Homo sapiens: one gene and its partner. The protein of the gene in region 2 purifies or fractionates together with the protein of the main gene of each other region. This does not show direct contact. Each region holds a gene or a part of one and is shown on either strand. Other genes may lie near its edges.

What was found. Proteins that work in one complex are often made in the same cells at the same time.
Region 1: the proteins of C1orf94 (region 2) and HERC4 purify together in Homo sapiens (affinity purification with mass spectrometry; 2 studies listed by BioGRID and IntAct, with this or other methods). This does not show direct contact.

The regions. Positions count from the first base shown.
Region 1 is NC_000010.11:67,988,284-67,991,783, reverse strand, and holds part of HERC4 (probable E3 ubiquitin-protein ligase HERC4), read left to right. Parts: intron 1-584; coding exon 585-644; intron 645-768; coding exon 769-880; intron 881-1,383; coding exon 1,384-1,573; intron 1,574-2,948; coding exon 2,949-3,121; intron 3,122-3,500. UniProt on the Homo sapiens protein: Probable E3 ubiquitin-protein ligase involved in either protein trafficking or in the distribution of cellular structures. Required for spermatozoon maturation and fertility, and for the removal of the cytoplasmic droplet of the spermatozoon.
Region 2 is NC_000001.11:34,174,767-34,180,952, reverse strand, and holds the start of C1orf94 (uncharacterized protein C1orf94), read right to left. Parts: upstream 4,047-6,186; 5' UTR 3,164-4,046; coding exon 2,844-3,163; intron 1-2,843.

The sequences.
Region 1 (3,500 bases), on a different chromosome or scaffold from region 2:
GAAATGTGTTCCTTCTGGTTTTATAATGGTCACTATCTTAACTTTTATACTTTGTGGAAGACTTGAGTATTATTTCTTTCTTGAATATTTTGTTAACTTGCCTAGTAGCACTTAAGATGTTATTTGTTTTTTGTTGGTATTTGGGATGATGGGTTGTATTTGAAAAGCTGTTTTGTTTCTCTAGCTTGTTTTCCAAAACTATAATTTTTCTGAAAATCCCAAAGGCATCCCAGATTAGGCTCACTGCCAATATAAAATGTTTAAAATTTTTTTAAATTAAAAAACTTTTTACATGAACATACACACTTAATTTTTAAAATACCATGTTTTAAAGCAGATAACATTGGATAAATGGATGAAAGTAATATTTAAGAAAGTCTAGAATAAACAGTAATACCTTCATCAAGTATTATTTTATCAGTCTTTAGCAATTTATGTAATTCTGATTCATCTAATTGGGTGTTAGAGGAGTGCTCTGTAGCATTAAACATTAGATTAATTATTCATTTTAATTCTTTTTTAAGAAAGGGTAAACAATTAAATTTCTGATTCTATGATTAAAAAAACTTTTTTAAATTTTTTAGTGAGATAGATGGAACGTTTTCTTCCTCTGGTTGCCTAAATGGAAGTTTTTTAGCTGTTAGGTAAGTGGCAATTCTTTAATATGCTGAAATTTTCAAATTTATTGTCTTAAATAGTATATCAAATTAAAAAATGAAATAATTTTAAATTTTTATTCTATTTTTTTTTTTCTTTTCTGTTTTTTAGCAATGATGATCACTATAGAACAGGTACCAGATTTTCAGGGGTTGATATGAATGCTGCTAGGCTTTTATTCCACAAACTTATACAACCTGATCATCCGCAGATATCTCAGCAGGTCTGTTTTTAAAGTATTATGTTTACAGTATTATCTGTTGATTTTGTTTTCTTTTGTTTTATACGTTTATAGCCTAATTTACTTTGCAGTTTCACAGACTCTTACGATGTGCTTTTAAAATAAGATTTTATTTTAAAGCATTTGTAATTTAGCTGTCAAAGATCTATAAATCTTTTCAGATGTTTGAAGCAGACCCTGAATTACTTAACATTACCACGTTGCTTAAGTTTGTGTATGGTTATAGAGGTAGAGAGTTTAAATTGAGACTTGTACACGTGATTTTTTAAATTCTCCAAGTAATGCTTAGGCATTAATTTTCATTGTGCTCCAAAGTATATTCATTGTAAGACATTGTCTTTCTTTTTTCTTCTTCACCATTTCATATTTGCTGTAGTGCAAAATTTTCCTTTTCTTTCTTTTCTTCCTGCCTTCCTTTTTTTTTTTTTTCTTTGAAAGTGTATTCATTTTAAATGAAGTAGGTTTTACTTTTTGTCAAAATATAGGTGGCAGCTAGTTTGGAAAAGAATCTTATTCCTAAACTGACTAGCTCCTTACCTGATGTTGAAGCATTGAGGTTTTATCTTACTCTACCAGAATGTCCCCTGATGAGTGATTCCAACAATTTCACAACAATAGCAATTCCCTTTGGTACAGCTCTTGTGAACCTAGAAAAGGCACCACTGAAAGTACTTGGTAAGAATTCTAATATTTTTTCTTTTGAAACCTTTTCTCTTTAAATGAAAATGCTTCATAAGTTCTTTTGCCATTTGCAGTTCTGCTGCCCTGCTTATTTGACACTGTCTTAGGCAAAAATGAACCTGTTTTTCCTTTTCTTGCTTTTGTCTAGTCTTTTGATTCTAGTTGTTGGAGTTGTTGAAAGAAAAACATGTTAGATATAGAAGTTCAATTAAACATAACAGCAGAGACAGTATTAGGAAAGTTAAAAACTGTCACCCGTATTCCTTTCCCTCATCGCCTTTAGTATAATCTTGCTATTAAAGAAGTAAAGGAGGAGGAACAATTAAAACTGAACAAACATGGGCTTTAAATCTTCTTGGAACCCTGATATAAGCCCTTTATCTTGTGTTTCCTTCACTTGCTAATTTCATGATATTTGATTTTATTTTTCTGCCTATAGACTAGATTTTATTGCTCATCTGATCTTGCACTTCTATCTCTTACTGTTCTGGTTTTTTGGCATAAAGTTTTCTCACTTTAATTTTTCTAATTGTCTAGATTTTATCTCTATTTCCTGGCCTTTATACTTTTTTTGCTACATTTAACCCAGTGCTTTTCTTTCTAATGGTATTTGTTAGATATGTGGAGCTGAGATATATAGAAGTAATAATGTCAGTACAAGAACTTTAAGGCTGAGGGTAAATGGAGGAAGCAACAAGCAAGGGGTAGAATATGGGAATCTGAGGGAAAAAGAGTCAAGCAGGGACTGAAAAGAGTATTGCTTTCCTGTTGTCAGAAGTTTTTGTATTCTTTCTGCCTGCTTCATAGGATTGAAGTGTTTGTACTTAGTAACTACAAATAGTGAATGTGGGGAAGGACCCATATGTTACACTTTACATTGTTCAGCTTCTGTATTTGATCTTCAGGAGTACCTTGCATTTTAAAGGTAGTGGTTCACAATATTTCAACCATATATTAAATTGAAAGATAAAAGTTAGAAAGATCCTTTAGTATTAGAGCAATACAATTTAAAGGATGTTTTGTTTAAAAATTGAAACTGTAATTTTCAAAACATTTTTTAAAAACTGGTTTTAATATTAGGTATAGTGGTGAGTTTTTTATATAACTTAGGAAACCAAGAATATAAATTCAACAAGACTTTCACACTTTATTTTTGCTTTTGAGAGCTTTTCGGACAATATTGTTTAACTTGGTCGGGGGGAGGTTTATAAACCTTACAAATGTTACATAAGATATTGTGTTATATGCATCTTTCTGGGGTTTTCTCAGGTTTAACAACTACTGTTTCAGAAAAAAAGTCAGTATGATTTTGAAAATTGTGATTTTTTAAAAAATTCATTTTATTTGCATGTTCACTTTTTAATAACAGAAAACTGGTGGTCAGTACTTGAACCTCCACTATTCCTCAAGATAGTAGAACTTTTTAAGGAAGTTGTGGTACATCTTTTGAAACTCTACAAGATCGGTATTCCCCCTTCTGAAAGAAGAATTTTCAACAGTTTTCTTCATACTGCATTAAAGGTTTTAGAAATACTACATAGGGTATGTCCAATCATTCCTTTATTTTCCTCTTTCCCCATTCCTATTAACAGATTGATACTGTTCATTTTAACATTAATCTATTAAAGATTTAGATTGGCAAAAACAATGCATATTATAGAAATTTGGAAAAGTTATCTATACTTTCTCTTAAAAGAAGTAATAAACCTGTCCTTTGGAGCTCTGGTCTTACCTGACTTTGTTAGGCATGTATAGATAACTTATCCATAGTTGGGCAGAACAATAACATACTAATGAGTTAGAATTCTCCTTATATTTCCTTATGAAGAATATAATTTGTTAGTTTGCATTATATGGTTTTTGTTAGCTGTAAGTGGTTATCTTGTGAAAGAGATTGGGTCCTAGTTGTAATTATGAACAT
Region 2 (6,186 bases):
AAGGAGGGGATTCGAGCAGCGGAAGATGGCTTCAAAAATCTCTTTCAAATTTGAAATGTCTAGGTTCCTATGATAAATAGGTGCAGAGTCAAGAAAAACAAATTCTGGCCAAAAAGAATTGTAGAATGCACTTACCTATCTACCACAATACAAGAAAACACCACCAAAACCAGGTCTACAAATTAAGCAGCAGAAAGACCAGCTGAGAGATATCTTGTGCACCTGAAGGCATTCTAGAAATAGTAAGAACAGCTCCCTGGCTTTTCACTCTGTGTGTGATCATTCAGTATATGGGACTCCCAACTATTTTGACTATTCAAAGATGCCCCAGATTCTAAGACAGGACAGCCGACATTATTGCCTCAGGGCCAAGGCGGTCTTGGGTTTCATTTCTGAAACTCTACTACTTCCTAACTGTAGGAGCTTGGGCAAAGAAATTAACCCCTCCAAACCTCAGCCACGTTATCTGTAAAAGTAATTTCACTTATAAATGGAGGGGTGGAGGTAGCAATTGAAACCAGAATGGCACAATGTGATAATTATTGAAACTCAGTGATAGACACATAGATATTCACCATATTATTATTCTATGTGTTTGAAAATTTGCATAATAAAAAGTAAAAAGAGATGGAAAGTTTAAAAGAGTACCTACCTCATGCAATAATTGTAGAGCTTAAAGAAATGATCACATCTGAATTGCAAGGAATTTTTACAAATCTGAATTATTACCATAAATGTTTAAATATCCCATTTAATCATTCCAACAACCCTACAAAATGTATAGTATTAATCTCCATTTGGCAGATGAGGAAACCAAAGTTTAGATAAATTAAAGAGTAACAAATTCTTCAAATGGCATGGGGCTGAAATGGAATCTGAAACCAGAGTTATCTGACTCCACCAGCACACCGCCTTTATTTTAAGAATAGCTCATTGTGTTCTATTTGGTTGACAATTAGGATGTCGTTTATTCGTCTAAGTCATTGGTTTCCTATCTCTTTTCTCAATAGCAGAAACATGTTTTTCAAATTCAGCCCTACTCAGAACTCTAGTAAGTAAAACTGATAAAAGCTAAACAGCTCTGGCTGAAATGGATTTTGGGGCCCAGCAACCAGCCCACTTGACTCCACAGTGACCCCTGAAGCACCTTGAGGTATATGGAGCATAGTGTGAACCCCAGATTGAAGCCAACAACAACAAAAACAACAACAACAACAACAAATCCCAACCTGAAGAAGTACATGTTAAGAGCAGCCTGATTTGTATAATGCATCTTTCATTTCCCTGTCTCCCATCACATTGGATCCTCATTATCAACTCTGAGGTAGACAAGGCAGCACATATCACCCTCAATTTGCAAATGAGGAAGTAAAGGCCAAATGGAGTTAAGCAGCTGGCCAAAGGTGCACCAGTTCAATTTTCAGCCAAGTGCAGACTGGAAGTCGAGTCTGTCTCCATTAACTCTGTGTGACCTGGCAAAGAGGATGCCATCTACTGGAAATTGCTACTGACCCTTGGTCCACAAAGTGGACAATCAGCTTCTTGGCCATTGAGAGCAGAGCACAGCCCCATGGGCCCTCCTGCCAAGGCCCTGTCCCAGAGCAGATGGCAATGAGCAGGGGAGAAGGGCTCAGTGCCACTGAAGGGCCTGACAGCAGGATTTTAGCTGTAGATGGGCCATTCCTGTCTGAGCCTTGTCATGCTGAGCACAGGGCAGGGAGGCAGGACTAGCCAAAGTGCCTTCCACCTTCATCTGCAGTAAGTAAATGAGCCCACAGAGGGACAGCAGGTAGTGTAGAGCTGGGTGTCATTTACACTTTGCTTTTCTTCTTAGCTCTTGCTTAGGCATCCCTGAAACCCGAGGCAGCTGATAAATGCCTGAATGGCTCCCCAACTCCAGAGCATCTCTGAACTGAGCTGTAGCATGTGTTGGAGCAGGCAACACTTAATTATCGGTTAGTCTTTAATTAGCTCTTAATTATTAACACTTAATCCATCTGTAAAATGGGGACACTAATACCTGCCTCACAGGGACTCTGGGAACATTAATTAAGTTTACAGTCCACTTTGAAGATGCAAAACGTGAAATAAGTAAGTGCTCAACGGCGGTATTAATAACCACAGCAGATTTACTTTCTTTTCCTAATTTCCCTTTTTCCTCTCTGCTCCTTCCTTTCCTTTCGAATATCCATCCTCAACAATATCTGCCCAACTTTGCCCTGATGGAGAAACACTTAGCTCTGTGTTTCCCAGACACAGGATTTCCCATCCCGGAAACGGGCTATTTACAGCCATCTTCCCGCACTTTAATTTTCTATTATGTCCTCTGAATATGTCAGTGCCTTCCCAGTAAATATTTTGATGTGTGCTCTTGCAGCAGCTTCTGTGGAGGCTGAATGGGACAGCTGCTCCCTGTATTAGGGAATTCCAGATGTGATTTAAAACCATCAGACTCATCCATGTGAATGCCTAGCCTTTAGGTGGGAGAGGGGAAGGATCTTCTAGTTGCTTCTGGGGAAAGCCACAAGCCATATAACCCTTAGCCTTAGCTAGGGTGGTTTTTCAAGGACCTCAGATTCACATGCGTTTAGGATGAGAAATGTCTGCTTAACGGGCTGGTGAAGAGGCAGCCTGGAATATAGCCCTAATCTGACTCTTCACCCACAAAACTTCAGAACTTTGGTCAGCTCTTCTATAAAGCTTGGACAAAGGACCATGGAGGGGGCAATATACAGCCTTTAGGGTTTCACCAGCCTCAACAGTGGGCCAGAACATTCCCCCAGAAGGTCAGACTTCATCTCCTCCCTCCTCCCTTGCTGCCAATGGAGTAGGGGGGTACTTACTCTTCTTGAAAGCTGAGCTCATTGCCTCTTAGAGTTCCAACCACAGGGACAGAGAGCTGCTCCATGGAGGTCCAGGGCTGTGAGGCCTCAGGCAGGCCTTGAACTCTCTTCCAGATTTCATGGCAAGTCTTGTCTAGGCTGTCTTGGGGTGTGTCCTGGTGGATCCAGATGTATCTGGGGAATGGGCCCAGGGCGCAGGGGCCCTTGGCCACCAGGGCCGAGGATGAAGGAAGCCCATTCCCGCTGGCCATCCTCCTCCTCTCTTTCTGGAAGCCCCTCTGTCCACCCAGGGCTAGAACACAACCACCACCACCCCTCATTCACCAGAAAGGGAGATGAGGATGGGGCTTGGCAGAAGTGGGTCAGTTCTGTCTGGCTTTCGCTCCAGCAAGGTGGTTAGGTTCAGAGGCCTTCTATTTGTGTGGGAGGGGTGGGTGGAGGACAGCTTTCTTTTGGGGAGGGGAGGGCTTATTTTGATTTGTTTTTATTTGCTCTTTCCTGACTTTTGCCTCCCTCCCCCTCTCCCTTAGAAGAAAATATTTAAAAGTCAACAAAAACCAGTAGCTTAGGAACAGTGGAATGCTGCGGAGCTCAGGAACCAGGCGCCTGGGCGGGCAGAATGACATCTGGGAACAGCTGGAAGGGGAGGGCTGGCTCTCCCCACAGTCCCTGGCACTGCCCCCTTGCGACGCCGCCGTGACAACTTTCGGCGCCTGGGCTCAGCCCATGCTGTCCCGCTAAGCCACGCGGAGGACTGGGTGCGGGCCTGGCACCATTGTAGGCACTCGGGGGGCGGGGCCCCGCAGGAGGCGCTCGCCTGGGCGTTCCCAGGGAGCCCCTCGCAGAGCGAGCGTCAACGGCCCGACTCCCACCCCCGGCCCAGGTCCTGCTTTTCTCTCGCCCTACCCCTCCTGCTCCCGGTCTCCCGCTGCTGCTCTGCTGCCCCCGGAAAGAAGGGATGAGGCGTGTGTGGATGGGCCCACAGCCCTTAGTCCCCGGCCCCCAGCAGACCCCTGCCCCAGCCGCGCCGCGCTGCCAGGCGGGCACCGGGAAGGGCCCAGCGGCTCAAGAGCGCGCTGACTCGGCAAGGCAGGCTGGGCCGGGCGGCTCCCACCAATTTGCCTGCCAGTAGCTCCCACACCCTCGCCGTCGTCGAGCGGGGGAATTCTTTCTGTGGGTTTCAAACGCAACGGCTCGGTGCGCGGGGCGCCCTGGGTTCGGAGCCCAAGACCCGCCGGTGGGGTGGGTGGGGGTGGGGCCCAAAGGACCCCAGAGCGCTTCGGGGGATCAGAAGTCAAAGCCAAACGCGCCGCCGCCCCACTTCGCCGCTCCACACAAATCTCAGCTCCTGCCTGGGGGTCCCCCGGCAACCTCGATTTTAATCCTAACTGCCATTTTATGGGGCGCTTGCCCTGTGCCAAGCGCTGGGCTCACATTCAATCCTATTAAAGCTCGTGAAATTAGTACCACTTTTTATTATCGTTCTACACGGGAGGAAAGCGAATCTCAAAGTCATAAGGGATTGCGTCCAAGGCCCCCTGAGAAAAGGGAAGCTGAGACTCAGACCCCAGCACTCTAGGCCTGATCTAGCCCTTGACCACTGAGACAGCTTCAGTAGGTGGGTAGGAGCAGGAGTAGGAGGTCCGAGGTGCAGGGAGAAGGGCTAAGTTAGCTGTTTGCTGATCAACAGGCCCCTACCCTCACTGAAGCGGCTTCATTCAATTGGGCACTGACACAGTACCTCTGCTGAGGGAGACTTTCTGGTTCCGAGAGTCAGGGGGTTGCTTCTCTAGCAATTCCCCTGAAAAGGAAAAGCAAGAGGGTGGAGACGGAAGAAAGAAGAATGGACACAAATAGAGGAAGATGGCAGTCTATAAATGCAGGGCTGGGTTGAATCCTGACACTCATTTCCGAGCTGTGTGACCTTAAGAACTTTCTGAACTTCTCCCATCCCCATTCATAATTCCCCCAGTACTGATGCAACCCCTCCTCTGTGCCCGATGAGTTGCTGGGCACTGAAGAAGCATAAGGGTGGGCAAAAATGGCATGGTCCCTGCTCTCCTGGAGCCTGTATACTAGCGAGGAGAGATCGATGCAAACCAGCCAAGCGAGTAAAGCAGCAATAATTACAGATGCAATGGGACTCTGATGGAAAATAACTATTAGGTTGGTGCAAAAGTAATTGCGGTTTTTGCCATCACTTGCAATGGCAAAAACCACAATTACTTTTGTACCAACCTAGTAACAAAGTGAGGCACTGGGGAGAAGAGGGGAGGCAATATTCCATGGTGGTCCAGGCCGACTTCTTTGAGGAGAAAAATTTGAGAAGGATGAGAGGAATTCCTTTTCTGTAAAATGGTGTTAATAAATTATGAGGATCATGTTTCTGGCACATAGTAGGCACTCAAAAAATATGTGTTGGATGAATTAATGGTATACTGTATGTAAAGTGCCTGGTATACAGTAGGTGCCCAATACGCAACCTTGCTCTTTACAGAGGGGCTGAGTTCCTGGAAATGTTTACTCTAAATTTTGAAATCTGAGCTTCATTCTCCTTTGATTTTCATTACAAAATTGAAGATGTGTTCCTTTGGGGAAAATTCTGAGGGCCTAGACTGAATAAAATTATAGTTAAGAATGTAGAAAACCTTTTAAAATAGTGTATTTAAAGGAAAAGTGATCATTTCTGATGAAATATTAATAGTTCTGAAAATGTCACTCAGTGTTTGTGCTGCTTGGCATTTGGTTGGCTAACACCTTAAGCTTAGAGCAGAACGCCAACGACCCTGCACTGCCCAGGCCCCAGGATTCTGGAAGTTAGCCAGCTCACTCACTCTTCCTGTTCCCTCTCCCCCTCAGCAGGAGACCAGGCAACGGGGGCTAAATCAGAAAGGACTGCAAAAAAAAAAAAAAAAAAAATCAAATACAGCAGGGATACGGAACAAAGATAGAGCATGTTTTTAGAGTGCACAGACGAGATTTCTAGAAAATTCTGCAAAAATCTTAAGTGATGTACTTAGAAATAGTATAAAGCTATGTCCATATGGTAGCCACTAGCCACATGGGGTTGTTTTAATTTTAACTTTATTTTTATATAAATTAAATGAAAAATTCAGCTCCTCATTTGCATTAGCCACATATTATGTGCTCAGTAGCCACATATGGCTAGTGGCTACCATATTGGACAGCACAGAGAACATTTCTTATCATTAAATACATATTCTCGGGAACCAGAGTCCCTGGGTTCAGATTCTGAGTTCACGTTTTCTGGCAATGTAAGCTTAGGCAAGTTACTCTGTGCCTTGGTGTATTAGTTTGGTAGGGCTACCATAACGAAGTCCAC